Regions from separate parts of the Homo sapiens genome. Here regions 2, 3 and 4 are each linked to region 1. The links come from fine-mapping of genetic effects on gene expression. A gene starts in region 1. Each other region holds a variant in brackets. All regions are shown on one strand. Distances are between the middles of the regions.

Region 1 (7,480 bases):
CTGCCCACTACTGGGATCCCCATTCTGACACCACAATTGGGTACAAGAGAGCTGGCATGGTGTCTGGACAACTTCCCAAAAAGTCCGTCTCTAACAGCATTTAAGATTCATAGCCCAAACCCCAAATGAACCAGTCAGATCAATCTCAGAGGTGGGGGTAACGGATAAAAAAAAGAAAGACGACTATTTTCCAGAAATCAAGAATTGTATCAGGAATACCGTGAACTTAAGATTCCTGGTTCACTACACTTTCAAGGGGATATTTAGGCTTTTATTTTTTCATTTTCCTCTTTTAGAGATAGCAGTTATTCAGCACCCACTAACAGTATTTAACTCTCCGAACAAGGCCATGAGGTAAGAATGATTACTCCCACTGCAAAGATGAGGAAACTGAGGGTCAGAGAGGTTCAATGCATCAGTGAAGGTCACTAAGCACAAAGAGGTAAACAGCTAGGTCTCACTCAATGCCAATAAGTGGATTTGTGCCATTTCCCTTTAATGTCTACTACTAGCTCAAAAACATTACTAGTTCCCAAATGGTTCAGCTTGGCATTTGAAGCCCGTTACAATTTAGTTCTGAATTTCTCCAACTTTACACCCTAACGTTCCCCTCCATGTGTACCATGGTCTAGCCCGGCAAGGTCCTTCACTGTTCCAAGAAATAACCTGCCCGCCTCCCCGCATGATTCCTAGAAGATCCCACCCAAAGTCCCCCACCCTTGGACTCTCGGGCAAGGGCCACAGGACTCGTGCCAGCTCAGGGAATAAGGGTGATGCTACTGTGCAAAGTGGACAGGCTCCCAGGGCTCCGGATCATGTCCCTCAACTAACACCGTCCCTTACCTCCCAGCATGCAGGCACACAGGCAAGGGGTCTCAGGCTCCACACACTCTTACAGCAGAGAGAAAACCCTTCCCTTTCCACCCTAAACAGCCACACTTCACCCACAGGCAGCTTCATTTCCAGAGAAATCCCTTCCTCTCTTCTGCGGCTCCATCCACTGCCAACGTACCAAAGCCCAGGGGAGACTTAACATGGTTAAAATTTTAAAGCATTTAAGAAGCTCAAAGGAAAGGCACGCTTGAAGTGCAAATCATCAATTTAGGGGGAAAGAGCAAAATATGGGGGGAAAGGGTATGGACACAAATGTAAATGAAACATAATTTTAAACAATATTTTGAATAAACTGCTTTAACATACATGTCCTGAGCCTGGGTGTTGAGTCCCGAGTTGTGCGGCAGTGCCTGAGATTGGTCTTCAGCACTCCCTCCTGCTTAGTTTACTAAACCTGCAATCTGAGGTGAGCTGGCTCTCTGGGTTTTGCCAAGTGGAGAATAACAGTTCTGTGATGAGTTACTTAACAGGCAGGGCACACAATGACAAGCCTGGGCTGGGCTGCTGAAGCAGCAGAAATCCTAGTTGGACTCCCCTCAGACGATCCCTAAAGCCCAATACTGCAGCCTAGTACCCTATGAAAAACGTCAGGATGTGCAGAAACTGGCTAAATATGGAATAAAAGCCCTGACTTGAACAGTATGAGGCAAGAGAAAAAATATAGGTCCACTTATCTCTAAAAAAACTATAGCTAGCTTTTAAATTCTGCCTTTCTGTGCATGGCCCGCTATCTTTTTTTATGTCCATACTTTACAAGCCAAACAAACCACATTTTTTTTTTGGTATGAGAATGAAATAAATTTAGAGACACTTCTAGTGTCTAAATCCATGGAAACAATTGGGGAAGAAAGAAGACTACACGATTTTCCTATACATCAGGCATTCGTGACAGCAGGGCTCTATTTACCTCCTTCAGAAACCATCTTAAGGCTTCTCTTTAACCCTGGGTCCACCACACGAAGTTAATGAGTCTTCCACTGCAATTTCAAAAGCTATTGCATTTACACACCTCTTCCTCAACCGACAAATCACTAAAGCATCCTAAGGGGTAGCATTAAATTTTATGGTTCGTTGACAGAAAGAATAGAATCCCAAATCACCAATCCATGTGTAATTAATTGTTCATTTCCCCCACTTTTTCTACCTGGTCTCCGTACCTGTCTATATTGCCACCAGGAATTCTTTAAAAAAAACAAAACAAAACAAAACAAAACAAAAAAAAACAAACTAAGAATCACACACTTCAGGAGTGTCTGAAGACTTCTGCATGGAAGACCCCTCACACCATCCAGGAACTGAAGCCCACCAGAGTGAGGAATCAGCCTCCGGGAGGCGAACGAGCACGCTTGCTCTTTCTAATCACGTGTACTAATGAAAGTGGCAGACTAAGGAAAGAGAAACGCCAAGGGTGGCTTATGTGTTTGGTTTTCTTTGCATGAAAGGCAGAAAGCTTTGCCAGGTCTCACCAGCACACCAGGCTATGCAGAGTGGCCAAGGCACAGTTTACCGGGAAGCAAAGTTTTAAAAATCATTCCAGTTTTACACGATTATATCTCTGAATGGACTGCACGGCTTTTGCTGCCTGCATGCTCTTTGCTGTTCAAGAATAAACCAAGTCTTCGCGTACATATACTACCTATACCATTTTTTACAAAAACAACGCTAAGAGTACAATGTCAGCTCAGAAGCTAGGCCGATTCAGCACGTGGAAAGAGGGCTTTATTTCTGCCCTTCTAGATAAAACAAATCCACGTAATTTACCAGAAACCACATAAGGCACCCATTCCACCTAACATCTTCGGCTATGAATGAATGAATGAAGCAAAGAAAAAACCTCTGAAGCAGCCAAACCCCGGCGTGGACATTTAGGGGTCTGACTTCAGAACTGAAGTCTGTTCATCTAGTTAGTTCCCTCTGGCTTGTTTCAGGATACCACTCTCTTGTTCCAACCCAACCACCCGTAGTCCATCTCCATTAACTCAGAATTTTCTGGGTTTGCGGTGACACTAAATGTCACAGTAACGAGGGTTACAGGAATTCGGAAAAGATAACGCTGCTTTCAAAGCCGAGGAGCCAGTAAAACACTACAAACGTCCCCTGCCGGCATGCTCCAGCACACAGCCCGACGCCCTGCTCTCCCGGCCGGCGCTCGGCCGCAGGACCGCGCTGTCCCGGCTCCTCTCGGCGCTCACCATCCTCCCGAATGCCCAGGGCCCGGCCGTCCGGAGCGGCGGCACGAGGACGCGGAACCGCAGAGCGGCTCACACGGTCCCCACAGCCAGATCACTCGGCCCCTGGAGCATGTTAAAAACACAGCCACAGAAGAGGGATTCTCCCTGAAGCGGGGAGTGGGGATGGAAAATGCAAGCGCAGGAGGCCACGTCCGGCTCGCGCGGGAGGGCCGGGGGCCGGGTTGGGCAGAGGGTAACGCTGGGGCCGCAAGGGAACGGCCGGGACTGGCCTCGCTCGGGGCGCAGGGGCGCACTGGCCCCTGGCTCGCACGGGCCCTGGGGCTTTACTTGGCACGGGAGCGGCCGCCCCTGCCCCCCAAAGGTAAAGGGCAAAGAAGGTGGCAGAAACACGGAACCCACGCCCCGCGGAGTGACAGGGGGAAAGGGACGAGGATTTGCAGCCGCTGGTATCAAAGGGCTGAAAAGAAACTTGGACTCCTCTCTCCTGCTGTACATGACGCGTTGGAAAAGCGGTCGCCTCTCTCTCCTCTCCTCCCCACCCCCTTTGTGTTTCCCAACACCCCCATCCCTAAACTTCCAACCGCAGGGGATGGGGCTCCCGGCGGCCGGACAAGACTCGAATTACGACGAGCAGAGAGAGGGGCGACGTCCACGAGAGGGGGCAGAGAAAGGCTGCGGGGGCCGCCCTTTCGGAGCCCGGCGTGCGCAGAGGGGCCGGGTGCACCCCTGCCCTGGGCACTCGGCGCGGAGGCCCGGGACGAGGGCGGGCGACGCGAGCGGAGGTCCGGGCGGAGGAGCGCAGGGGCGGCGCGGAGAGGGCAGGGGACAGGGGCGCAGGGTGGGGGGTGGGCGCAGGGGCCCGGCCGCGGCAGGGCGCTCCACTCACCTTCCTGCCGGCGCCGCCGCCCGCGCCCCCGGCCAGCGCAGAGCCGCCCCCCGAGTACATGTAGTAGGCGATGCCCAGCACCCACAGGAAGGCGAAGCAGAGCAGCATCCGCGAGCGCCGCCGCATTCTCCCAACTCGGCCGCCGGCGGGGCCGCCGCTGCTCGCGAGTGCTGCCTGGGCCGGCCGCGGGCGCGGTGGGGGCCGGGGGAGGAGCGGAGGAAGGGGAAGGGCGCGGCGGCGGCTCCTCCTCCCGCGCGGTGCTACTGCTCGGCGGCGGCGCGCACTCGGCGCCCGAGCTCCGCCCCGGGCCGGCGGCGCCGCGCGGCACCAGAGCAGGAAGCAGCGGCCTCGGAGGCGGCGAGGGGGGTCAGGGAGCAAAGGGCGACCAATCGGCGGCGGCTGCGGGGGCCGGGGCGCGGGCCGCGGGAGGGGACTGCCGCGTCTCCATGGCTGCAGCACGCCGGGCTCCGCCGTGAGGGCCTGGGCGCCGCCCCGCCCCCGGCCGCCCGCCCCTCAGCGTGCTCCCCCCGCCGGCCGCCCCCTCCCCCGTGAGTGACAGGTGGCTGCCCCGGGACCCGACTGGAGCGCGCGCACACGTGGGCAAAGAGCCTTGCTCACGCACACGGGGCCTCTCGATTACGGGGGCGGTAGTGGCCTCGGTGCTTCCTGCCCAGACTGTCACCTCTTCAGCCTTGGTCTTTGGGGCCACCTCAGACCCTTAACGGGCTTGCTCTTATTGGCCAACTGACCTGAGTTTTTGGTGCAAACCGCCCGCTTGAACCCGACTTTGCTGCTGCTTGCTGCAGTTTTCTCACTAATCTTGCAGCAAAACATTCCTGACCCGCTGGTATCGATTTTATTTATCTATATAGGCAGATGTGGAGGTTTTGAGTTGGTAGGAACTGAGAAGGTAATTTTCAAAAGAACATTTTTCTGTGGGTGACAGAGCTATCAATGGTAGAGTTGTTCTTTTCAATAAACACAAAATGAGGAAGAAGGAAAGCAATAATATATTGTTTAAAATCTTTTCTTTCTCATTCGTTGCGTTCTTTAAAAAGCACATTAAGCATCTTTAACGATACAAGAAAACGATCTGTCTTGTAACATAATCTATGTAACCTTGGTGATGCCCTTGCAACACGCAAAGCTTCCAGTGTTCCTAAGAAAGACAGAAATTTTACTTAGAACTTGATATATTAAATGTTTTCAGGAGCTTCTCGGTCAGAGGATAATGGCAGCTGCCTGATATAAGTCCGTACCCATATCCTCAACGAAACAAAAACAAGCCTTCAGCATTACTTAGAGAGAATGCCATGAACTGAACATTAAATTACTTAAGTAGAAGAAAGAAAAGATACCAAATTCCAACTGAGCTCCCTCCACTATTGCCAAGGACTTAAGTGAAGTACAGGGTTGTCACCTCTTTATAAATAGAAAGTCCAACACCAAGAACTAAAAACTGAACAGAGGTCAGGTGCCTTATTGATCAAGGGAAGAGATTTGAAAGAAAATGGGACAAGAGGTGAGAGGCTTGAAGGAGCCTTGTTTCTGGGAAAAAGTCAGATAAATACGAAAAGAAGATAATGTCCTTCAGAGGCCTGACAATGAAGGGAAAGAAGGAAGTCAGAAGGGAAAATTACAAATCCTGCAGAAATGAAAGAGAAGACAGCCAGTCCCCTCCCCAAACACCAACATTATCTATTAAAAACTGCATTTCAGTACACAGATAAAAGAAAACACTCTTGAACCGGGAACCCTGCCTCAAAATGCCTAGTAACAGAAAAACATCAAATCAACTGCATTTAAAGATTCTGCAAAAAGAAAACAGAAATCACATTTCTGATGATAAAAAATAAATCATAACATTTTCGCTGATGAAAACCCCCACAATAAAAACCATGAAGCATAAGAAAATTGTAATACCACATGTCAAACTGAACAAAGTGTCACGTATTTGTATACACATACACACACACACACATATCTAGGATAAGAAATTTCAAGAACTGAAGACAGACTAGACAAAAATTAGGAAGAAATGCAACAAGGGTTGAGCAAATTCAAGAAGGAAATTGAAAGTAATGACAAAAACTATCCCAGAAACAAAGAATAATTACAAGGTGTCCAAGGGAAAATATATTCAAATGAAAATATGTAAAAGGACACTGAAGAATGGCAAGAAAACAATCAAGAAATTGAAAATAATATAAAGATAGAAGTAAAAAGGTTCAGAGAGAAGAGGTTAAAATAAAAGCCAGGAAAGGAAGACCAAAATACATGTTAAGTGGAGTCCCTAAAGTACAAACATTAAACAATAAAACCTAATTAATATTAAAACTATAACCCCAGAAAATAATCCAGGAATAAGGGAAAATTTAAATGTACATGTCAAAAGTGACTTCCATGTACCTTGGGAAATGATCTGGAATTATCAACTCCTAAATATATTTTAGTAAAACGATTAGATTTTAAAGGCAAAAAAGATCAAATTGCTTATAGAGATAAAAATTTATGCTGGCATCAGACTTCTGAACAGCAACATGCAAAGCCAGGCAACAGTGGAGCAGCATTAACAAGGAACAAAAGTGCCAGGCAGGCTGGGCATAGTGGCTCATGCCTGTAATCCCAGCACTTTGGGAGGCCAGAGTGGGTGGATCACCTGAGGTCAGGAGTTCAAGACCAGCCTGGCCAAAGTGGTGAAACCCCATCACTAAAAAAAATATGAAACTTAGCCGGCAGGTGCCTGTAATCGCAGCTACTCGAGAGGCTGAGGTGGAAGAATCATTTGAACCCGGGAGGCAGAGGTTGCAGTGAGCTGAGATCATGCCATTGCACTCCAGCCTGGGTGACAGAGCGAGACTCCATGACACACACACAAAAAAGTACCAGGCAGTGATTTTTATACCCAGCCCTCAAGTGTCAAGGTTGTAGGCAAACAGATATGACCTGAATGCAAAAATTCAGAGAACGTGACTCACATGGGCCTTTCATGAGGAATCTTAGAGAATGAGCTTCCTCCAACCAAGAGACAGCTGAGGAAGCCAGCAGAGTGACTAATGGAGAGCATTTTGTATATTCAGAAGGTGAAAGACTAGTGTATATACATTATACTTTCTGATAAACTTAGAACAGGTGCAACTAAAGACAACTGGAGGAGAAGGGGAAGAGCGAAGGGAAAATAGAATAATATCATTGTCTGCAATATCAGTAGCAGGTAGTAGTGAAAGGATACCATATAAAACAGACAGACCAGATGTTAAAAGGTTAGAAACAAAATATAGGAATTAAGGGTAATATATTAAAAATATAAATAAAAATCACTACAACAAAATATATGTATTCCCAAATATTGGAAACCCTATTCCAAAACCCCAAAAGTTCTAAAAATAGCAAAGAATACATACCAAATAATGAAAGAAACACAGTAAGTGTGGCACAGTGATGCAGTAGTTATAATAGGAAACAATATGACACAGCTGAGACCAACCCACATCAGATATAACAATTT
Region 2 (7,480 bases), 190 kb before region 1:
CATCAGGACCCCCCCAACTCCTGCTCTCTCTGGGCCTGCAGGTGACCTGGCTTCCCCATGCACATACCTGGTTTCCCCCAGCATTGTGACATTCATAAACTCCAACCACACCATCAGCAAAGTGTCCCAAAGTGTCGAGGCAGTTAGTTCCCTGCTGCAAGGCCCCAAAAGCTATATCCTGATGGTCTGGAACCCTGAAAAACAACGTGAGAATCACCTGCTTCACTGCACATGACCACCAGCTCCCGTCCACCAGCCCCTTTGCTCAGTGGCCTCATGACAGGTGACAGGAACGAGAGAAAGACCCAGTGACTAGGCATCGTGCCTCTTCCTACCACAGGTAGTGTGTGTCAGGGACACGGCATTTCTCCCAGGCTCTGGACTTCCAACACTTTAAGACTGTATGTTGCAGAAGTATTCTTTATATTCTATATCAGGTCATTTTTTTTTTTTTTTTTTTTTGGAAAGGAAGGAAAAGCTCCTGATACTCTTCAATGTTAGTCTTATTGGAAGTCATTTAGAAAATCAATGTGGTCAGATCCTGTTGCCTTGAACTTTCCAATACACTTAGGATCTGACCTTTATCCAGTAAAGACGGGAAAGGTGGGCAGACTTGTCAGGTGGTCTAATGTGAACAAAGCCACAGCCACGGGGAAGAACAACGTGCTTCAGAACCAGATCCAAACCTCAGCCCACCTCTGCCAGGTGCTGGCTTTCAGGCAAGACTCACTTTCTCTGAAGCTCGATTTGCCCTTTGGTAGGCTATGGGCTACCCAGATCTGCTGCAAGTGTTACATAGAACATTTCGTGTAAAGCACACGGCCCAGTGCCTGGCTCGTAGGAGGCACTCAGTAAACGGCGGTGATATTACAGACACAAAACACGAGGCTGATGTCTCCCTCACCCCCCACAGACAGGGGAAGCAGATTTGCCAGCCAGGATGGTGCTCAGTGCCTCAGATGTGGTCTTCAGTGGGTGCGGGGCCCAGTGTCACTACAAACCATGGGTGACCTCTGTGAGAAATGGCAGTCAACTGTGACTGAAAAAGCAAAGTGAGTGGCATGGTTGGGTTAAAATCCACTGAATTGAAGCCCCTCTTTGGCTGACGGAGAGTTGATGAGCAGCCGCCTTAGTGCCCACAGTCAAGAATCTGTTGTATAGGGACACCAGGCAGGAGGTGTAGACATCATATTCTGGGGCCAGACACAGAGGCAGAATGGGTTCTTTTGGGTTGAGTGCACATGGCCGAGAGGACAGAGCTGGCAGGAAGAAGACCAGGGCCCTGCAACCAGCAACTGTGACCAGTGCACCCTTGCCGCTGCAGGTGACCATCGCTGGTGACCATCTGGTGCTCTCAATCCCCAGCAAAAGCTGTCCTGCACGGCAGGGATCCGAGGGAGAAGGACGCTGTGTTCTCTCCTGTTCTCCTCCTAGGGGGCATGGGCCACCTGGCGCCTGGCATGTTACTTGAAAAGCAGAGGAAACGGTTCCAAAGAGCCAAGTGAGCGAACAGGAGCAACAGAGAGAGGCCGCATTACCTAACTGTCCAACAAATCTCCGTGACAAGGGCTCTGAAGGAGCTGTTAGCGGAAAGATAATGGTGGCAAGTCTTGCGTTCGCAGGCACTGTGCTGGAGATATGTGAGCCGCTGTAAAATGCTCTGGGAATATTTAGAATAAGGAATGTGCCGCATTAAGGCACGACCTGCCTGACAGTCCCTTTAAGAAGATGAAGTGCAGATGGCTCCTCCACCCCAGCGGATCTATAGGTCTTCTCACGAGGTTATCAGCAGGTCCCTCCAGATGGGGAGCTCGTATTCGCTTAAAACAAGAGGCTGGGTGTGGAAATAATGCTCAGAAAGGTGTTTCTGCCATGAATCCTCCGGAGGGACGTGGGGCAGCAGCATTATTACTTCCGTTTCACATGTGATTAACCTAGCTGGGAGGAGGGAGCCTCGTGGGGGCTGTTATCTGCTGGCCCACAGGAGCAGCAAGGGTGAGCGCAGCAGATCGGAGGCATGCAAAGGCGCCTGGCGGGGGGATCGAGGGCTGGCTGCAGACACTGCATGCTTGCGGAGGCTGGGGACTGCTCCTGGTCACTCGAAGAGCCTGTCAGACACCAGTCCTTCAGGTCACCCAGCCCATCACCTTGCCAATGGAGAACAAGCCAAAAACAAGGTGAGGCCCGGGGGACTGCCTCTGGGACTCCGAAGCATGGGAGGGCAGCTCTGCAGGACAGAGACAGCAGCAGGCCAACTTGGGAGCAGATTCTCAGCTCCACACCATGGAGTGAGACCACAGGCTCTCACTGGGGCCCAGGTGCCCAATCTCATGCCTGCAGCCCCACCTCCATTTCCCCTCTGCTGCTTCTATGGCCTTACTGGCTTCTAAGCCCTTACAAAGTGAAACCCCAGATCCCTGGGGACTTACCTTAACTCTGGATAGACATTTTCAAGGTACCATTTGAAAGGCTTGCAGCTGAGTTTCTTCCTAAGCTCCAATCTGCTCTGAATACTGGAGAAGAGGGAAATAAGATTCCTTTATAAATTTTAAGAATAGATGGGCTTTCTACATCAAACTTGAAAATCTGCTGAGGAGAACAGGGTTGGGGCAGGTGGTGTGGTGTGGACTGCCCATGCTCCTGTGCCCACAACCCCTTCCCGCCTTGGCACCTGGGTAGCTGAATTCAACGCTGGGGGCAGCCCCTTACCTCCCACCCCCACACCCCAAGAATCCCCAGTAATTGTGAGAAGGCAGAACTGCCACTTACTTTCCATAAGGAACGTTTCTAGCAGAAGGCACTGCTGCATAATAGAAATTTTTGTATTCATCCATCCAGACCTCTGCTGCCCGGCGGGTGTTTCTAGAAAGAAAATAAATCTTGAGGTGTGATTTCCTTTCTTTCTGTCTGCATCACTCCATTTGCACCTGTCTGCTGGCGTGTGACTGAGGCGGCTCCCTCTGGGTGTGCAGCAGCTCCAGCTGGGATCACGGCACACAGCAGAGGGTGGGCT[G/A]TCCCCACCAGCACCTCGAGCTGGACCTGTGGGGAGCCAGCCTCAGCGGGTGCTTACTGAACCATTGGAATGGCTTTCTTGTCACACAGATGGTCAAAGGGCAAAAGGCAAAGTGGAAATTACAGCACGAGCCAATATTTTAAAGGAGGGACTGGGGTCTATATCTTAAAGAAGGACAAAAGAAAGTTACTCTTTAAAAACTCTCACATTACGCGTCCACAGAGGGCCGGGGCCACAGAGCACAGCAAGGAGATTCCAGGCCCCACGGCCTTCTCCGTCACGGCTACGACACTATCAGACAGCTCTGCATTAAAGTTCAGACTACATAAGATAAGAGTTCCTGGGAAAATCACTTTCTTTTCTGCGGGGCTAAGCTGAAAGACTGCCATGTTTGCACTAGCTTTTTTTTTTTTTGATGGAGTCTCGCTCTGCTGCCAAGCTGGAGTGCAGTGGCGAGATCTCGGCTCACTGAAACCTCCGCCTCCCGGGTTCAAGCGATTCTCCTGCCTGAGCTTCCTGAGCAGCTGGGACTATAGGCATGTACCACCACACCCAGCTAAAATTTTTGTGTAATTTTAGTAGAGACGGTTTCACCACATTAGCCAGGATGGTCTCGATCTCTTGACCTTGTGATCCACTCGCCTCAGCTTCCCAAAGTGCTGGGATTACAGGCGTGAGCCACCGCGCCCAGCCGGCTTTTCTAGAAGGAAAGAAAACCATGTACTTAAATCTCATAGAGAGAACCATGATTTGCCATAAATAAAGCCCCTGGGACAAGCTACTCTTGAATGTCTGACATGCATTAAAAGCTATCATCTGCATAGGTATCAGCAGTGTATTCTGCCAAGAATTATCTTAAAGCATCCATGAAGTAGCAAGCACACAGCTAACCTCTTTGCTCCCATATTCTGGTCTCGGCTATAAGGTGGACTCCCACTTCAGGCTATAGCTAGCCCTCCTTAAGAACCCCATAGGAAGGCACTGTGTTCTTCCAAAATAAATACAGTAAGGAGGTAATGCTCGCCTTTTAAAATAATTCCTTAAAATGGCGAAACTTTCAACTGATCTGAGATACCATTATTAAAATAATTTCTGTATGGGGCCTATATCTTTCATATAAGGTGATATATATACTTTTTCATTTTAGTAAGTAGAATATGGACTATTATCCATAATGCCATTCAACACAGATAAGAACATATGAATGCACCTATTCTCTGACCCAGCAGCTCTACTTCTAGAAATTTATCTCAAGGCAGCAATCAATTAGGAATGAAATATACATGTGAAAATATGCTCACTTCTGCTTTGTTTATAATAGCAAAAAAAAAAAAAAAAAAGAGAAACTTTATGACTAAATATGAGGAAGGAATCAAATGAAATATTCTGTGACCACTAAAAACATGAGTGTGCATCTTACATGTTGACAGAAATGATGTCCTGGACTTGTGGGAAAATAAAATAGTTTGCAGAATTGCATATAGTGGATATGTGTGTAGAGGCAGAAGGAGAGCCAGTGAGCAAACAAGAGAGAGAGACAGAAATAGATACTGACAGACGAATTCATCAAATTATGAGAGTGTTATGGCACAACTGGTTTGGTGATGAGACTGATGAATTTTTACTTTCTCTCTATTAAAAAATATACAGATACAACAATGAGTACTTAAAGTGCTGGGGGATACTGGATCATACATATCATTTCTCAGAAGAGCCACTAAACATTGTTAGTGGGGTTTTGCTAAGTGACCTATGCCTTAACCTATGCCTAGTCAGTTTTTAACCAGTTATTAACTTAAATACTTGTAACATCTGGCACCTGGATTTCCCCAACAGGGACATGAAAGGATTTGATTCCAGAATGTCCTAGGTTCCTTTCAGCCTTAATGATTTAAAGGTTTTATCAACTCCAGTCATACTGTTTTCAAATCACTCAAGTTTTTAAGTGACTAAATCACTTAAAAATTCCTAAACGCAAAGCAACTCTTTTCTGTCTTTGTAATAGAAAAGGATAACTAGGCAGCCCCAAGGAATGATCTCCATGTGCTACTCAGTGCTAGCTCCTTTTATTCATTTATTTATTGGTTCACTCAGGTATTTATTTGGTATCTACACCAAACAGTCTCAGTGCTGCAGATACAGTGGCACCGAGGGAGACTCACTTTTGTCCAGGCCCTCCTTGTTTTTGCAGGTATTTGCAAGTATTTAGGTAGTATTAAATAAGTATTAAATAAATATTAAATGTCATCTATTACAAGTTGGGCATCCCTAATCCAAAATGTCCTAACATCCAAAACTTTTTGAGCACCAACATGAGATAGTGACGAAACTGCCTTTGCAAAAAATTTAACAATGACAAAATTGACAGTTTAAGGCATCTGACCTGACTGACTCCATCTAACTTCTAACGTCTAAACTGCCCTTGTTCACTCCTGGGCATAGGCAGAACTAACTTTGGGAGAAACTTAGTTTATAGTTTAACTTTAAAACAAAGATGGTAACAGCCCTTTCCCCAAACAAACCCTCTTTTTGTCTGGGTACCAGACTGCCTTTGTTGGACTAACAAATCAGCCACAGATTTGCAACTTCCCCAATTACTCCTGCAGATAACATCACCATTGCAGAACGTAAGATTGGCCTTTTGTAATGTCTTTTCAGGCTTCTGCACTTCTGATGACTCCATCCAGATCTCCAGCTTGTCCTGTGGACCCATCCATGCAGAAGCAGACTCGGCAGGCACAAGGACCATTTTCCACACCCCTATGATTGCACCTCATCCAATCAGCAGCACCCACTCCCTAGTCCCCAGCTCCCTCCAGATTATCCTTGAAAAACCCTAGCCTCTGAATTTTGGGGGAGATTGACTTAAGTAATAAAATTCCAGTCTCCCACTTAGCCAGCTCTGTGTGAACTAAACTCTTTCTCTATTGCAATTCCCATCTTGGTAAGTCAGCTCCATCTGGGCAGCGGGCAAGGTGAATCCAGTGGGCGGTCACAGTGACGCCTTTGCTTTCTGATGGTTTAATGTACACAAACTTTGTTTCATGCAGAAAATTATGAAAAGTATTGTATTAAATTAACTTCAGGCTATGTGTATAAGGTCTATATAAAACAAACAAATTTTGTACTTTGACTTAGGTCCCAGCCCCAAGATATCTCATTAGGTAGTACATATAAATATTCCATATCCTGAAAAAGTCAAAAATCCAAAATATTTCTTGTCTCAAGCATTTTGGATAAAAGATATTCAACCTGTATAGGAGATTAAGAGAAACTGCAGCTGGAAAGAGACCTCAGAAATACAGTGATATAATTCCACTTCTTTATCTTTCAGATGAGTCAACTGAGGTAAAGAGCAACCTGGCTGAAGGTCAACAGCAGGGCTTTTTAATCAGATCCATGCTGCCCCAAAATAATGAAACCCTGGATCAGCTTCTTTTCCAAATCTTGAGAATACAGGCTCCTGGGCTGTGAAATACAATTTGAAAATGTTTCTCTTCTAACAAAGAGTGCAATGTCTTGAGTACTTTAACATACTGTTTTCTGAAATCTCACTGTTTGCTGGTAGGTATCAATGGCTTTGGTGTGGGGCGTCTGATATGTCTATATAAAGAATCTCATGCTGCCCCAGGAAAAAGCACATATATCCATATTTTTGTTTGATTTTGTAAAGCTTATTGTACAAGATCACATTTTTGTTTTAATAAAGAACAAAAATGAAGTTTCAACATTTGTGAAGAAACATAGTTTTTGAGAGAAGATAATTTGGTCAGAAGCATTACTTGTTATTTTGCCTTCTATTAAAGTTTTCTCAGAAATCAGATTCCCTATGTGAAAAATCTGACTTCTGTATAATAGGTGTATTGTATAATCTGTACTTTTAAGAAGTTTAAAAATGGCCAGGCACGGTGGCTCACGTCTATAATCCCAGCACTTTGGGAGGCTGAGGCGGGTGGATCACTTGAGGTCAGGAGTTCAAGACCAGTTTGGCCAACATGGAGAAATGTACTACTAAAAATACAAAATCAGCTGGGTGTGGTGGCGCATGCCTGTAATCCCTGCTACTCAGGAGGCTGAGGCAGGGGAGTCGCTTGAATCCGGGAGGTGGAGGTTGTGGTGAGCTGAGATCACGCCATTGCACTCCAGTGTGGGCAACGAGATCGAAACTCCGTCTCAAAAAAGAAAAAAAACCAAAAAGTTTAAAAATGGCTGGGCACGGTGGCTCACGCCTGTAATCCCAGCACTTTGGGAGGCCGAGGTGGGCAGATCACCTGAGGTCAGGAGTTTGAGACCAGCCTGGCCAACATGGTGAAACCCTGTCTCTACTAAAAATACAAAAATTAGCCGGGCATGGTGGCACATGCCTGTAAGCCCAGGTACTTGGGAGGCTGAGACAGGAGAATCTCTTGAATCTGGGAAGTGGAGGTTGCAGTGAGCCGAGATCGCACCTTTGCACTCCAGCCTGGG
Region 3 (7,480 bases), 220 kb before region 1:
GCCTGTAATCCCAACACTTTGGGAGGCCAAGGTGGGTGATTACTTGAGACTAGGAGTTTGAGACCACCCTGGGCAACATAGTGAAACCCAGTGTCTACAATAAATACAAAAAATTAGCCAGGCATGGTGTTGTGTGCCTGTAGTCCCAAGCTACCCGGGAGGCTGAGGTGGGTAGATTGCTCAAGCCTGGGAGTTCAAGGCTGGAGTGAGCTATGATTGACACCACTGCATTCCAGTGTGGGTGACTCTGTCTCTAAAAAAAAATGAAGATGAGGGCAGGCATGGTGGCTCATGCCTGTAATCCCAGCACTTTGGGAGGCCGAGGCGGATGGATCACCTGTGGTCAGGAGTTCGAGACCAGCCTGGCTAACATGGTGAAACCCCATCTCTACTAAAATACAAAAATTAGCTGGGCATGGTGGTGGGTGCCTATAATCCCAGCTACTCTGGAGGCTGAGGCATGAGAATCACTTGAACCTAGGCGGCAGAGGTTGCAGTGAGCCGAGATCACACCACTGCACTCCAGCCTGGACAAGAGGGAAACTCCATCTCAAAAAGAAAGAAAGAAAGAAAAAAAAATGAAGAAGGAGAAGAAGAAGGAGTAGAAAAGAAAGAGAAGAAATATGAATTCTCAAATCCCACCCCAGTCCTGCCGAATCAGGAACTTGGGGACTGGGCCCCGGGACTCGGTTTTAACAAGCTCTCCTGGAGACTCTGCTGTGCACTGAGGTTGGGGAAGCGCTGGTTTGGTTTCCAACCCAGCTGTACTTTCTGAGCCTCTGGGGAGCTTTGCAAACACAGCTGACCTTAGCTCCAGGGACTGCAGGATTGCATTGTTGTTGTTTCACTCCCAAGGTAATTGGAATATGCAGCAAGGTTTGAGAAGCACAAGTGTCATACAAAGAACAGGGCTTTGAAGTTTGAGAGCTGGGTTCAAATTCCTGTTCTGACATGACTCACATATGCCTTAAGCTTTCTAAGTCCTACTTGGTCCGTCTGTTGAAAGGTGGAAGTGAGCCCTGAATGAGAAGCTGGCATCATTTCTGGAGCATGGCAGGTGCCCAGTGAACATTAGCTCTCATCTTCTAAGCTCCCAGCACAAGCATGGCCCCCCAGCTGATGCCAGAACACATGTTGGGAGTGTCGGAAGGAGGACCCAGGTGAGGGGAGCATGTCATGGGATGGGACCTTAGAAGCCCTGTCCAGTGCTGAAAGCTGACCATATGGACACACAAGTGTGTACCCTGTGCCGTGAGGTTTGGAGCTGGCAGGAGGTGCAGCTGAGCCATGCATGTGGCGTGTGGGAATTGCGAGGGCTCTGGGCTTGTATGAGTCAGCTTGGAGCTGCCAGAACAAAACAGTGCAGGCTCGGGGGGGCTTGCACAACGCACAGCCCCGGATGCCGGAAGTCCAGGATCAAGGTGTCTGCAGGGTTGGTTGCTCCTGAAGCCTCTCCATGGCGTGGGACGGCTGTCTTCTCCCTGCGTCCACACGTGGCCGCCCCTTTGTGTGGGTCTGTGTCATCATCTCTTATAAGCACAGCAGTCAGACTGGATCAGGGCCATCCTCATGACCTGCCCACCTCCCTAAGACCCCACCTCCTAATATCATTGCCTTGGGGGTTAGGATTTCAATCTATGAATTTTGGGGTGGAGGCACACAGACATTGACATCTCCTGAATTGGCCTCTGGTTGGCCCCTTGTGTGATGAAATGGGTGCCGCAGTGAAGCTCATGAGCAGGGCTGGTCCTGGTTGGTGTGCAGTTACCTGCGGGCCAAATTCTACATCTTCAGCTCTACAATCGTGGGTTTCTCTCAAACATATGAAGTGCAGACAGCCTCAAAATCCCCAGTGCAGGGGGCTGGGGGAGTGGGAGGGAAACAGTGGCTACCCATGCCACCCCTTAGCTCGGCCCTCTGCCCCGGAGCCAGAAGTTTCCGGAGAGTTCTCTGTCCCCTCGCTGTCCCATCAGCCTCAGCTTCTCAGGTCCGTCCCAGACATCCCCACCTGAACCAGTGGCCACACACCCTGTCCTCCCCTGCTCCAGCCCCGTGTTCCTCACATGAGGAGGATGCTCCTCACCTGCTGGCATCGGACCAACTTCCTTGTTGCCAAAAATCCAGGTACCTCTTCCCAGAGCTCACTGTGCTCTGGCTCGGGCCGTGGGGCAGCCTCGTTTGTCCCGCACCTTCCTTCCTTTCCTTCCAGCTGCCTCTGCCCAGCCAGCAGTGTCTTGCTCGGTCCTTTCCAGCCTGTGTGTGGATCTGTGTTTCCAGGCCCCTGTCCTCCCTCTCTCTGCCGTCCCCCTCTCTGGTGGTCTCTGACGTCACTTCTAGGCTGTAAAAATGCAGGGCTGACACCTCCACCCTTATTTCCCGGGTCCCCGTGCCATCCCACATTCCCTGAAGACTTGGCAGATGTGGAAATCCCATTGGCTCCCCTGCTCCAGTCCCTTTCCTTCTGGACGGCCCACAGACCTGCCGGGAAAGCTGGGGAGGCTCATGGGCCGGGGCTGCAGCTCTGGGCTGGCCTAGATCAGAGCGCAAATTAAAAAAAATTTTTTTTGAGACAGGGTCTTGCTCCAGGCTGGAGTACAGTGGTGCAATTATGGCTCACTGCAGCCTCAAACTCCTGGGCTCAAGCCATCCCGAGTAGCCCAACCACAGGGGTGCATCACCATGCCCAGCTTATTATTATTATTATTTTGTAGAGATGGGAGTCTCACTATGTTGCCCAGGCTGGTCTCAGACTCCTGGACTCAAGCAATCCTCCTGCCTTGGCCTCCTCAAGTGCTGGGATTGCAGGTGGAGCCACTGCATGGCCAGGAGGCACTTTTCGTGCTTCCTCTCTGATCTTGACAATGATTTTCCAGGGTGAACAGAAGGGTTCCCATTTCACAGAGCAGGCTCAGTGACATCCCATGGTGACACAGGTGGTGGGTGGCAGGATGCAGCGGTGGAGCCCATCTCTCCCACCCCTGAGTCTCCTGACTCCTCCCCTCCAGCCCTCATGAGCCGGCGGGCGGAGGCGACTCCAGCTTTCCCTGTTAGCAACGGGAGTCACTGCCCCTCCCCTGGCTACGACCAAAGGCCCATTTCACTTCCCATCACCTCCTGTCCCCGTGTCCCCACCGGACCAGGAAGAGGACAGTCACAGCCTGGGTGCTTAACTTGGCACTGTGTGGGTAAATTAGGCAAATGACTTAGCTGATCAGAGCCTCAGTTTCCCCAGGGGTAAAATGGGGTAACGTCTTTGTGTAGAGATGAGAGGTTATTTGAAGGGTGGGACACCCATTCCAGGGCCTGAGAAGCCGCACCCAGTGCCACCTCCTCTGTTCGCCCCTCTTCCTTTCCCTCAAGTGTTTCTTTTCACTCCTGGACTTCACTCCTGTGTGGCACCCGACAGTGGTGGCTATGCATTTACATGCTCTGTCCCAGGATGGGCTCCTTCCCATCCTACCCGCCCTCCTGCCGCAGACCTGGCAGGCCCAGATGAGGCATCAGGCAGCACCCACTCTGCATATCCTGAGCTGGAGTCCAGGCCAAGCAGTCTCCGAATGACAGTTTCGTGGCTGAGGCCACGCAGCGGCGCAGAAACGCCTCCGTCTTTCCACCTCAAGAGGCACTTTGTGAAGGTCCTTGCATTCAGTACTCTGGCTCCTTGCTTGCCGAGCAGTCTTCTGCCCACTTCCTTCCCATGCGGCTTCAATAGGGAGAGAAGCTGACCAGCAAAATCCCACGCCCCTTGGCCCACGTGTCACAGATCAATGGGTGGGCACTGTGAGGACAGCGTGGCTTCCCTAGAGCCTGAGTGGCTCAGCCTCACCCATCTGCCAGGGTACCCTCCAGCTGTGATTTCTCAATATAAATGCAAATCAGGTGACCGACTGTGAGTCTCTTGGCTCCAGCAGCGCCTGTCCTCAAGGGCGGTCTGTTCCCGTTTTTGCTCTTGGAATCAGGATTAGAGCTCTGGGCAGCTGCCTGGGCGCTGGAGAACACCCCTTTGACCCTGCAGCAGGGAGATGACAAAGTCACGGAGGCTCCAGGACAGTGGGGACCATGCATCTCACCGACATGGAGATGCTTAGAATTTAGGGGGTCCAGCAACTTAGATGGGAAAAATGATATTGTTATTTTCACAACCTCCAACTGAAATGGAACACTCTACAACGAATGTCGACAACAAAATAGGAACTTTGTCACTAATTAAAAAATCACAGATATTTTCATCACATTAATTATTGTAGCTTTTTCAAAACATTGTTTATGCTCATCACTACTTTAAATTATGGCAGCAATTAGACAGGAAGACTTGTTATTTAATGCATTAAGAAGCACATATTAGGAAAATATTTTGATAACTGTGTCTTGGCATAATTAGACTTCTTTATAATCCCATGTAATCAATGTGTTTTATTCATTTGAACACCTTCTGAGAGGAGGCCCTGAGTTGATGGCTCACGCCAAAGGAGTCCATGGCATCAACAGGGTGAAGGGGCTCAACAGGGTCTGCGACTGCCTCTCTTAGGATGAAGGAATCCTGAGACCACGCTGCCACCCCTGTCCATCTGCTGCTGCCAGAATTCTTCCAGTGATGGCAAGTGTGGTGGGCACTGGGCTGCTCAATGAGTAGTCATCCCTTCCCTGTCCTCCTTGCCAGCAAAACCCACTTCCATGACATGGGAGGAGGTGGGAGGTGA[C/T]TGCTTCCCGGCTTCCCAAGGACCCGGCTCTGGGCAGTGCGACCCGGGAAGACTAAGAGGTGGGGAGTCTAAGGGGTGGGGAGTCTAAGAGGTGGGGAGACTAAGGGGTGGGGAGACTAAGGGGTGGGGTGGTCACTGGCAAAGGTGCATCTTCCCTAAGTCAAAAAACAAAGATGCACAGGAGGCAGCACGCTCCAGGTCTGTTCAGTGATAAATGTTAGACGTTTGTCCACTTCAAGTCTCATGTTGAACTCTGACCCTCAATGTTGGAGGTGAGGCGTGGTGGAAGTGTTTGGACTGTGGGGGTGGGTTCCTCCTGAATGGCTTGGTGCCATTATCACAGGAGTGAGTGAGAACTGATTGTTGAAAAGAGCCTGGCTCCTCCCGCCCCCCTCGCCATGCCATGCCTGCTCCCCTCTGCCTTCCACCACCAGTGGAAGCTTCCTGAGGCCTCCCCAGAAGCAGACGCTGGAGCCATGCTCCTCGTACGACCTGCAGAACCATGAGCCAAATAACCTACCGTTTCCAATATTCCTTTACAGCAACGTGAACAGACGGAGACCCGAGCACCCACTGTACTAAATGAACCACGGTGGGAGGGGATGGAGGGGAGGGGCGCTCGGATAGGGAGCAGTTTGTCCACAGCAATGTCAAGCCCCAGGATCAACGTGGAATCCCATCACCTTTGGATTTCTTGTTATACAAGACAACATCTCTTTTAATCTCGCCTCCATTTAGGTGGGCTTTTTATGGAAGCTCTCCAATAGACAATTCTGCCAACTTGAGAGCAAGAAGGACAGTCTCAGGGAAACTCCGCAGCGAATGTGAATCAGTGGCTTCGGTGCCGCGCAAGGGTTCTTTCCACGCCCTTCAGGAGGCTGGCACCTTGTTGAGACTGGGTCTTTATTCCTGAAGAGGAAATCATGGCTACTGCTCTACAATGCTCCTTATAATTGCATCCAGAGTCTGGTTCAAATCTGACTCACCCGTGGGTGTCACCTGGGCTGAGGACCAAAAGGTCTTCTCTGTAGCCCCTGTCCAGACCACCCTAGCCTGGGACCCCAGGAGCTCAGGCAGAAACTGCTAAGCGAACACTCCTCTTTGGAACCCTAGGGGAGACGACAGCTTTTGGAAACAGGATGTATGTTATTTGCAGGCACAAACAATGCATAAAATCAAATACAGCAATTGTATTAGGAGATTGCTGAGAAATAGGCAAGAACTGCTGAGAAGAGAGTTTTTTCTTCTCTTCTGTAGGTAAGTCCATGAACAGAAGAGTGTGTCAGAGGCATTTTATTTTTCTGGTTGAATATTCTTGACAATGTGAAGTTATACCGCAGAATCCAATCACTGAGTTGGGTTGGATATTTCATTCTGAAAAGCGTTGCAAGTCTGACCCTCTCTGCTCCAGTCAGGAACTCCTGTCATTCCCCACCCCCACAGCCTTCCCCAGCATTCACAATGCTCACACACGGGCCCGCCTGCCAGTCTGTCCTCTTCCTCCCAGGCTGTCCCCATCAGGGGATCTTGCTGCTATGTCCTGGTGATGGGACTTCTCAGACGCTGAGCCCCTGCCGGCAACGCTCTCCCTCGCCAAGTCCGAATCCCACAGAACCTTTGAGACACGGCTCCAACAAGGGTGCAGCACCCGCCAGGCCGAGAGCCTGCATTTGGCTTGTCCTATTTGTCACCATTTAACGTGTTTCCTCCTCAGCCTGGGTCTTCTTTGGGACTATCAGCACAACACAGGTTTTCAACAAATAGTTACCGAATAAATAAACCTCTCCCTGTTGCCAGAGCAGGCACCACACACGGGATCCCTAAGGGGCTCCAGTGGGTGCTACAAAACGATGCTGAGAGTTCCTTTAGTCTTCTCAGATGGCAGCAAATTTTTGGTGTCCCAAATAATAGGGAAAGAAAATGGATTACATGTGGTCTCTAGAAGGTTTCAGACACTCATTTGGGCCAGTCCTGCCAGTGGCCAACCTCCTACTTCACCCCAATGTCAATCAAAATTGCTAAATAATTTGGGCCAGGTGCGGTGGCTCATGCCTGTAATCCCAGTACTTTGGGAGGCCGAGGCGGGTGGATCACTTCAGGTCAGGAGTTTGAGACCAGCCTGGGCAACATGGTGAGACCTCGTCTCTACTAAAAATACAAAAAAGTAGCCGGGTGTGGTGGTGGGGGCCTGTAATCCCAGCTACTCGGGAGGCTGAGGCAGGAGAATCACTTGAACCCAGGAGACAGAGGTTGCAGTGAGCCAAGATTGCACCACTGCGCTCCAGCCTGGGCGACAAAGTGAGACTCTGTCTTGAAAAAAAAATTGTTAAATAATTGGTCAAGGTTATGTTTCCTTGAACCCTTGTGGGGCTGTTCAAATGTAGGTACTTTTGCTTCTGTTGTTGAGATGGGAATCTTACTTCGTTGCCCAGGCTGGTCTTAAACTCCTGGGCTAAGCGATCCTCCTGCCTCAGCCTCCTGAATAGCTGGGATTACAGGCACGCACTACTGTGGCCTGGCTCAAATGCAGGAATTTAAAAGGTACCGAAGGTCAGGTGCAGTGGCTCACGCCTGTAATCCCAGCACTTTGGGAGGCCGAAGCTGGCGGATCACTTGAGGTCAGGAGTTCAAGACCAGCCTGGCCAATATGGTGAAACCTCATCTCTACTAAAAATTCAAAACATTAGCCAGGTATGGTGGTGAGTGCCTGTAATCCCAGCTACCTTGGAGGCTGAAGCGGGAGAATCGCTGGAATCACTGAGGCGGAGGTTGCAGTGAGT
Region 4 (7,009 bases), 210 kb before region 1:
TAAGAAACAGCCACTGAGCAGGAGCTGCAGAAGGCTGACCCCAATCCCAGTCCCCACACCCACCCCACCCAGCCCTCACACACCAGGACAGACTCTGGCCAGCAAAGAGCGGTATCTAGAAAGTATCTTCTCTTTATTTAAGTTAAACAATTTTCAAGGATGGTTTCCATCTATAAAATGGACAAAGTACAAGCTCTGTACAGCAGTTCTTTTTAAAAATCAACTGGAAAAAAAAATTACCAAACTATATTTTGAATTTGCAAAACATACTCACAGATACCATCATCTGAGCTTTTATGAGGACATAAGAAAGGACCAGCACAGAGAAGACAACTAACTTCGGCACGCTTTGCTCGAAGGGCTCTTAGGAAAGAATTCTGAGTTTTAAAAACAGGAGTGGGAGGGTGAGATAGTCCTGATGATTAAAAACTAACGCAACCGCAGTAAGTCACTTTGGCACACTGTGTCATGTAAACATAGCTCACCGCAAAGGACCCCTCCCCGGCCCACCCCTGCTCTTGACGCCCGGACCATCCAAAGCCGCCTCCCAGCTCAGGGACAGGACGCCGCCCCCAGGGCATGGGCCGCACAAGGGTCTGGGTAGACACGTGGGATGATAGGAAGGCTGAGAGGGCCTAGGGGTGCGGGCGGGGTAAAGGTGAAGGGGCAAAGGATTCGTCAGAAAACGTGATTTTAAAACGAGCCAGATTCATCCATTTCCCTCCTTACAGTAGTAGCAGCTCGCAGGTCACAGGGTCTGACAGAAGAACCTGGGTGCTGGGGGCTACGCACACCCTGCTCTGGCCTGCACTCCACAGCCTCGCACAGGTACCTAAGGGGGTTTTCCTCAGGCTCCCCCCGAGCGCCCACCGTGAAAGACAGAAGCGTGCGGAGTTACTCCAGCGTGGGGGCACGCTGCCCACTCACAACACATCTGGTTGCATGGCAGGGGAGGCGGGAAGAGAAGACCTATAGGGCAGCCCTCCAGCCAGGCTTCCACCTCGGGGCCGCTGTCCTACAGTGCACACATGTGGGGCTCCCGCCGGGGAGGAAGACACACAGTGGCCCCTTTCATACAAGACACAGGGAGGAGCATGGCACCGGCACAACCTCCCAGGGTGGCTCCTAACTCCAAGGCCGCCGCTGTCCCACCGAGGGGCCTGCAGGTGTGCCTAACTGACGCTTTTCTCAGACTGCCAGGCCGTGCCAGCCTCTCTGAGACTGAGCATCTGTGTGTGCGGCGCTGGAGAAGGCGGCCAGGAGTGGAGGAGGAAGCAGGGCACCGACCACAGAGTGGCAGGGGTGACGAGGAACATTCCTGAGCACCCAGGTAGAAGCCAGGCACCTCTCCCCGTTATGACTTTCAGTTCATAACTGTCTGTGGTTTAACAGGACCCCAAGGCTCCTGTCTCCCGCCCTGAATCCTCAGTGTAAATGAGCAGGTATTGTTTGGTTCTGACCCTTCCTAATTCTTTCCCCAAAGCCCCCTGAAGCAGTCATCTTGGCCAGGCGGGGTGTGGGAGGGAGCTGCGGGCGGGGCAGGACTCGCTGCCTGGCTGGAGCTCCCCAGGCCAGCAGGTGTGCAGGACTGTGAGCCAGGCCTGTGCCCTGGCTGACGGGCTCATCCCTGACACTGCTGGCCATTAATTCTGAAGGCCCAGCGTGCAGGGCTCAGATCACAATGAAGCCAATACTAGCGTGTGACAGCTGCCTGGCATCATTGGTCTGCCCTGTCGCCAGGGGGCAGCGGTATTGCTGGCTCACACAGAGCTATGGGGTATGTCTTATATTCCTTAGAGAAAAGAAATTTAATGTAAAAAGACCCAAAGTGATATCTGTCAAAATAAGTAACCGCTCCAGGTTCACAGATACGCACAGCACGCAAGGTGGATTCTGACGCACAGTAGGGACTCTCAGGCTGACGCCCAACAGGGATGCCGGGGCCGAGGCCGGTGGTCTGGAGGAAGCCCCCCAGCTGGCCACAGCAGTAGCACCAACTGGCTGATCGGGCTCCAGGGGACAAAGGCCACCTCCTCCCTCTGTGAGAAACTGGCCCCA[C/A]CGGGCTCTGGCCCCTTCTCCCGGAAGCTGCGAACGGCTTTGTGGGGAATATACAAGATGACGATGATCTACAGAAACCATAGGGAACTGACCGTACATTCTTTCTCTATATAGCTTTATATTTAGTGTCCCACCATAGAAAACTTCATCCTCAATATAGCAAGTACATGAGGTGGAGGGGAGTCTGGCCCAGGAAGACACTTGCGAATGGAGGAGCAGAGAGAGGGACTATTGACGTAAACCTGCCACGTGACACGACTCGGCTTTGTGGAAACCATACGTGATTTCGAAGGGATTGAAAATGGAGATTTCAAGAGTTCTCCTCGCTCCCCTGGGGCATGTGTGCCCCCTCCTCCCGCCCTGTCCTCAGCTCGCACGCATCCGTTCAGTTGCTTCTACCACTCCCCAGTCGGTTGTCGCTGGGTGTCACTCAGTTGCGGAGCCGGCAGAAGTGAAAGCTGGAAGGAAGAGGGGCGCTCCGGCCTGGGGAAGGGGGCCCGGCTGGGCTGCACCGAGAGGAGGGGGAGGGCAGTTCTCGCTTCTTGCCGCTGCTGTGTCTGCACAGTCGTCCGTGCCTTGCCGAAGTTTGACTTTCAGACCATGATGGAATACTGAGGTATATTAGTTTCGCGGAAAGTTTAAGAAACATAATCAATAATGTGATCACCAGACTCCACCCAATGGTGCAGGAGACAGGACGGCAGGGCCTCCCGGACCCTCCTACTGCTGCAGGTTGAGCGTGAACTTCCACTGCTGCGAAAGGGCCGGGCCACACACCTCCACGCTTAGGCCCCCGCTCTTGGCCGTGCGACTGTCCAGGCACAGGTTGCTGCCCACGTGCCTCAGCTTGGAGTTGCCCTCGATCTGTTCCCATTTCTGCAAGACACAGGAGAGTGCCTTAGAGTGTGGGCACAAGCAAAGGAGTACAAACAGATTCGTGTGAATTCAGGACCTTGTGGCTGCATTAAAAACTCACAGATAGACACGTTTTTCCCAGCCTCTCATCTGAACGGCCGAGGAGCTTGCAGCAGCCCCACAGGAAACCAGCCACAGGTGCTGCTGGGACCCAGGAAGGAAACATATTCTCTGCCTTGGATCAAAACTCAGAACGTCTCCTGCCCCAAACTTTCTGTGGGTGTCCCCTCCTCTGAGCCCCAGAGCTCTGGGCACCCACCCCTTCGTCATTAACACAGGATTTGATGTAGGGGAATTTGCATGCCTTCGTATGAAAGCTTGATCCAGTGATGGTTCACCCCAAGAAGGGATCCACACAATGCAGGGCCAGATCCTCCCCTGGCTGTTGGAAAGCAGCCCTGCCTGGAGGCCTTGGTCTGGGCACCTCCATGCTCCCACTTAGGGCTTTCTGCTCGGGGGAGCCAGAGGAACGGTGTCAGGCCAAATGTCAGGAAGAGAGATGGTTGTTTGAACAGAACATAGCATTGAGAAGCCTATTTCTATGTAGTCTGTTCTCTACTGGTGTGCAAGCTCCTTGGTGGATATGAGAAACTTGTCTCTGCTACCCTTGAGCCCCCTGGTGCTCTGTATGGCAGGGACCAATGTTTGCTGAGTTCTGAACATGCCGCTTGTAAAGTACAGGGTACGATGCCTCTTTACTAACACTCAAATCAAGCGAACAACCAAACTCAACCCACATACCCGTTACCCACCAACTAAGCCAGAATCAAAGTGCACAACCCAGCCTGAAGGAAATCTGAGGAGCCCTGTTTAGCAAGTAACATAAATACCCCTTTCAGCCTGAGTGCAGGCGGCTCACGACACTAATCCCAGCACTTTGGGAGGCCGAGGCAGGAAGATCGCTTGAGGCCAGGAGTTCAAGACCAGCCTGGGCAACATAGCAAGAACCCATCTCTACAAACATTTTTTTTAAAAAAAATTAGCAGGGCATGGTGGTGCATGCCTGTTGTCCTAGCTCCTTGCAGGCTGAGGTGGGAGGATCGCTTGGGCACAGGAGTTCGAGGCTGCAGTGAGCTATGGTCATACCCACCCCTGCACTCCAGTCTTAAGCAACAGAGTGAGATCCTGTCTCTTAAAAAAAAAAAAAAAAAGAAAGAAAAACAGAAAAATCCCCCTTTAAAAATCTCTAATGTTTGTTCTTAAAAAAAAAAAGTAACATTTTTTTCTTCCCCAAAGCTCGTTTCAAATAATGAAGTCTGTGGTTCTAATTAATTTTTTATACTGTGTGCACGAAAGCTCCTTCACCTAAGTATTTTTTGCAAATCCTTTTGACATTGCAGAATTAAATTTTCTCACTCCTGCCTCCCTTTCCCCTTTGACTCTGCAAATATGCACAACATATGAAAACATGGACGTGCCTGGAAACCAAATGTTCCAACTGGCAAAGCCAGTTCAGTTCCAAGATAAAATTTGCTAAGGAGCTTCCTCTTGAGGGGCCAGTGAGTGAGGCAGGGAGGAGCCGGTGCAGGCAGAGGAGCCCAGTGCTGGGGACCCGACCTGCGCGAAACACCACAAGGATGTTGTCACTTGTACCCTGCTTTCCTTATTTCCGTCCACCTGCTCACCTGGAGTTCTTGCCAGCAGGGAAAGACAGTGCAATCAGAGGAGCCGGGGAGGCTTTTGCTAAGTGCCTGTCATTGCCTCTTTCATTTCCAGCTCCCTCGTTGCTGTCAATCACCCCTCATGCTGTTTTTCCCCATTGTCATGTAAAGTGTGTATGTATTGAGGCTGCCCTGTTACTCTGAGCAGCCAGGAATCTTCTCAACAAAGAATTCGGAATGAACGGAATCTGATTCTGGCCACTGGAGGGACTGCCTGTCATGTGTCAAAGCATCAGCTAAATCAAGAACCTTAGAAAAACAACAACAAAACCCCAGCTCCGTCTCGCACAGGTGGCCTTGTGGGCTCTGATCTGTCTGTCTGATGGGATTGTGGTTGGGGGTGGGGAGCGCAGATTTTCAAGGCAGTCAGACTCTACTGAAACAGCCCCCACATCCTCTCTAATAGCCTGAGTCTTGGGGTTTAAAACCTAACAGATCCCCATTTATACATGCCATACATCCAGAAAAACTTATTATTTATAGGTCTTTTCATGCTTCACAAAGGTCCTAAGCCGTGTCAGTTATGGTTCCCCAAAACTGGGACTGAAGCAGAAACACCTGTCAATTCTTGAAATTAAGCAATATTGAAGTAATATTTGTTTTTTAAAAAGGTGTCAACTAAAGTCATCACTTTATCAATCCATTACATCCAAAGACATCTCTGCTCCGTTACATCCCAGGGGAATGTGTTTGAGACTCACCCAGTACTTGGCTCAGCAGATGCCAGCCTTGCCCTCGAGGAGCTTCCTCTCGAGGGGCCAATGAGTGAGGCAATTTCTAGGTGGTTTGGGTCCAAGCGGTGCTAGCCTTCTCTTGTTTAACAGGCACTCCCTTACACATTTTGGTATCAAGTCATCAACACAGATGGACATTTAGAGATGCGGATTGTGAGCAGAACCCTAGAGAGGGGCTCCCACTGCCAGGACAGGCTGGGACTCTGCAGAGCAGGGAAGGAGGAGCACCCAGAGCTGGCGCAGGGGTTTGGAGACAGACAGGTGAAAGAGGGCCCTCTGCAGGCGTCTCCCTGACAACTGGGGTCAGAACCGGGGACTCGGTCCTGGCCTTGGTCTTCCCAGATGACTCCAGGGTGGAGGCAATGACTTTCTGAGACTTTTCTGTTGTGAAATCAGGGTTAGACTAGAAGCTGGCTTAGGCTCTTGGCTCCAGTAGGTTCTGTGCCTCAGTTTCCCTACATCCCATCTATCTCTAAGGACCGACTGTAAGAACAGGGGCAGGCACTCCAAGTATGGGCATACAGGGAGGACCTTTTGTGCTTGCATTTCTATTCCTGACACTAACTGTTACCCCATGCCTTGAGAAAGGGTGTGTCCACAAGCTGCCACAAGGGAATACGTCAGAGAAAACCGGCTTACAAGGCAGGTAGAAAGTCTATTCTGAAATGTTTAAAGAAACTGTGTGTATATGTGTGTGTGTGTATATATGTATATATATGTGGTGTGTATATATATGTATATATCTGTGGTGTCTATATATGTATATATGTGTTTATATATGTATATATATGTGGCATGTATATATACGTATATATATGTGGCATGTATATACGTATATATATGTGGCATGTATATATACGTATATATATGTGGCATGTATATATACGTATATATATGTGGCATGTATATATACGTATATATATGTGGCATGTATATATGTATGTATCTGTGGTGTCTATGTATATATGTGGTGTTTATATATGTATATATCTGTGGCATTTATATATGTATATCTATGTGGCATGTATATACATGTATATATGTGGCATGTATATTTGTATATATATGTGGCATGTATATATATGTATATATCTGTGGTGTATGTATATATGTATATATATGTGGTGTTTGTATATATATATGTGGTGTGTATATGTGGTGTGTATATATATGTGGTGTTTACATATGTATACATGTGGCATGTATATATGTTGTGCTTGTATATCTATGTGGCGTATATATATGTGGTGTTTATATAAATGTAGCATGTATCTATATGTATATATATGGTGTGTTTATATGTATATATATGTGGCGTTTATATATGTATATCTATGTGGCATGTATATATATGTATGTATCTGTGGTGTGTGTGTGTATATGTATATATATGTGGTGTTTGTATATATGTATATATGTGGCGTGTATATATATGTGGTGTGTATATATGTGGTGTTTACATATGTATATATGTGGCGTGTATACATGTGGTGTTTATAGATGTATATGTGGCATGTATATATATGTATACATATGTGGTGTGTATATATATGTGGCGTTTATATATGTATAAATGTGGCATCTATATATACGTATACATGTGGTGTGTATATATGTATATATGCGGTGTTTACATATGCA

The links. PIP is the estimated chance that this variant, and not a neighbour inherited with it, causes the effect.
Region 2: its variant is the best candidate, but not a certain one, in a credible set for the expression of GALNT2 in whole blood (TOPMed, PIP 0.58).
Region 3: its variant is the best candidate, but not a certain one, in a credible set for the expression of GALNT2 in whole blood (INTERVAL, PIP 0.51).
Region 4: its variant is the best candidate, but not a certain one, in a credible set for the expression of GALNT2 in whole blood (INTERVAL, PIP 0.82).

The regions. Positions count from the first base shown.
Region 1 is chr1:230,063,899-230,071,378 of GRCh38, reverse strand. GALNT2 (polypeptide N-acetylgalactosaminyltransferase 2) reads right to left here and starts at 4,141. Exons shown (of 16, transcript NM_004481.5): 1 at 3,973-4,141. The coding sequence starts at 4,098. RefSeq lists enhancers at 2,332-2,411, 4,766-4,925 and silencers at 3,326-3,385, 3,826-4,635.
Region 2 is chr1:230,257,955-230,265,434 of GRCh38, reverse strand. It overlaps GALNT2 (polypeptide N-acetylgalactosaminyltransferase 2), which reads right to left. Exons shown (of 16, transcript NM_004481.5): 12 at 2,770-2,862; 13 at 2,430-2,513; 14 at 68-194. It overlaps LOC124904542, which reads left to right. Exons shown (of 5, transcript XR_007066928.1): 4 at 5,672-5,957; 5 at 6,348-6,778. Among named protein-coding and RNA genes, the nearest start is that of PGBD5, 160 kb to the left of the region's middle. RefSeq lists an enhancer at 1-319. The variant G/A (reference allele first, on the strand shown) is at 3,014.
Region 3 is chr1:230,282,667-230,290,146 of GRCh38, reverse strand. No RefSeq gene overlaps it. Among named protein-coding and RNA genes, the nearest start is that of PGBD5, 140 kb to the left of the region's middle. RefSeq lists enhancers at 1,515-2,014, 3,199-3,698. The variant C/T (reference allele first, on the strand shown) is at 4,701.
Region 4 is chr1:230,275,228-230,282,236 of GRCh38, reverse strand. It overlaps GALNT2 (polypeptide N-acetylgalactosaminyltransferase 2), which reads right to left. Exons shown (of 16, transcript NM_004481.5): 16 at 115-2,934. The coding sequence ends at 2,779. Among named protein-coding and RNA genes, the nearest start is that of PGBD5, 150 kb to the left of the region's middle. The variant C/A (reference allele first, on the strand shown) is at 2,059.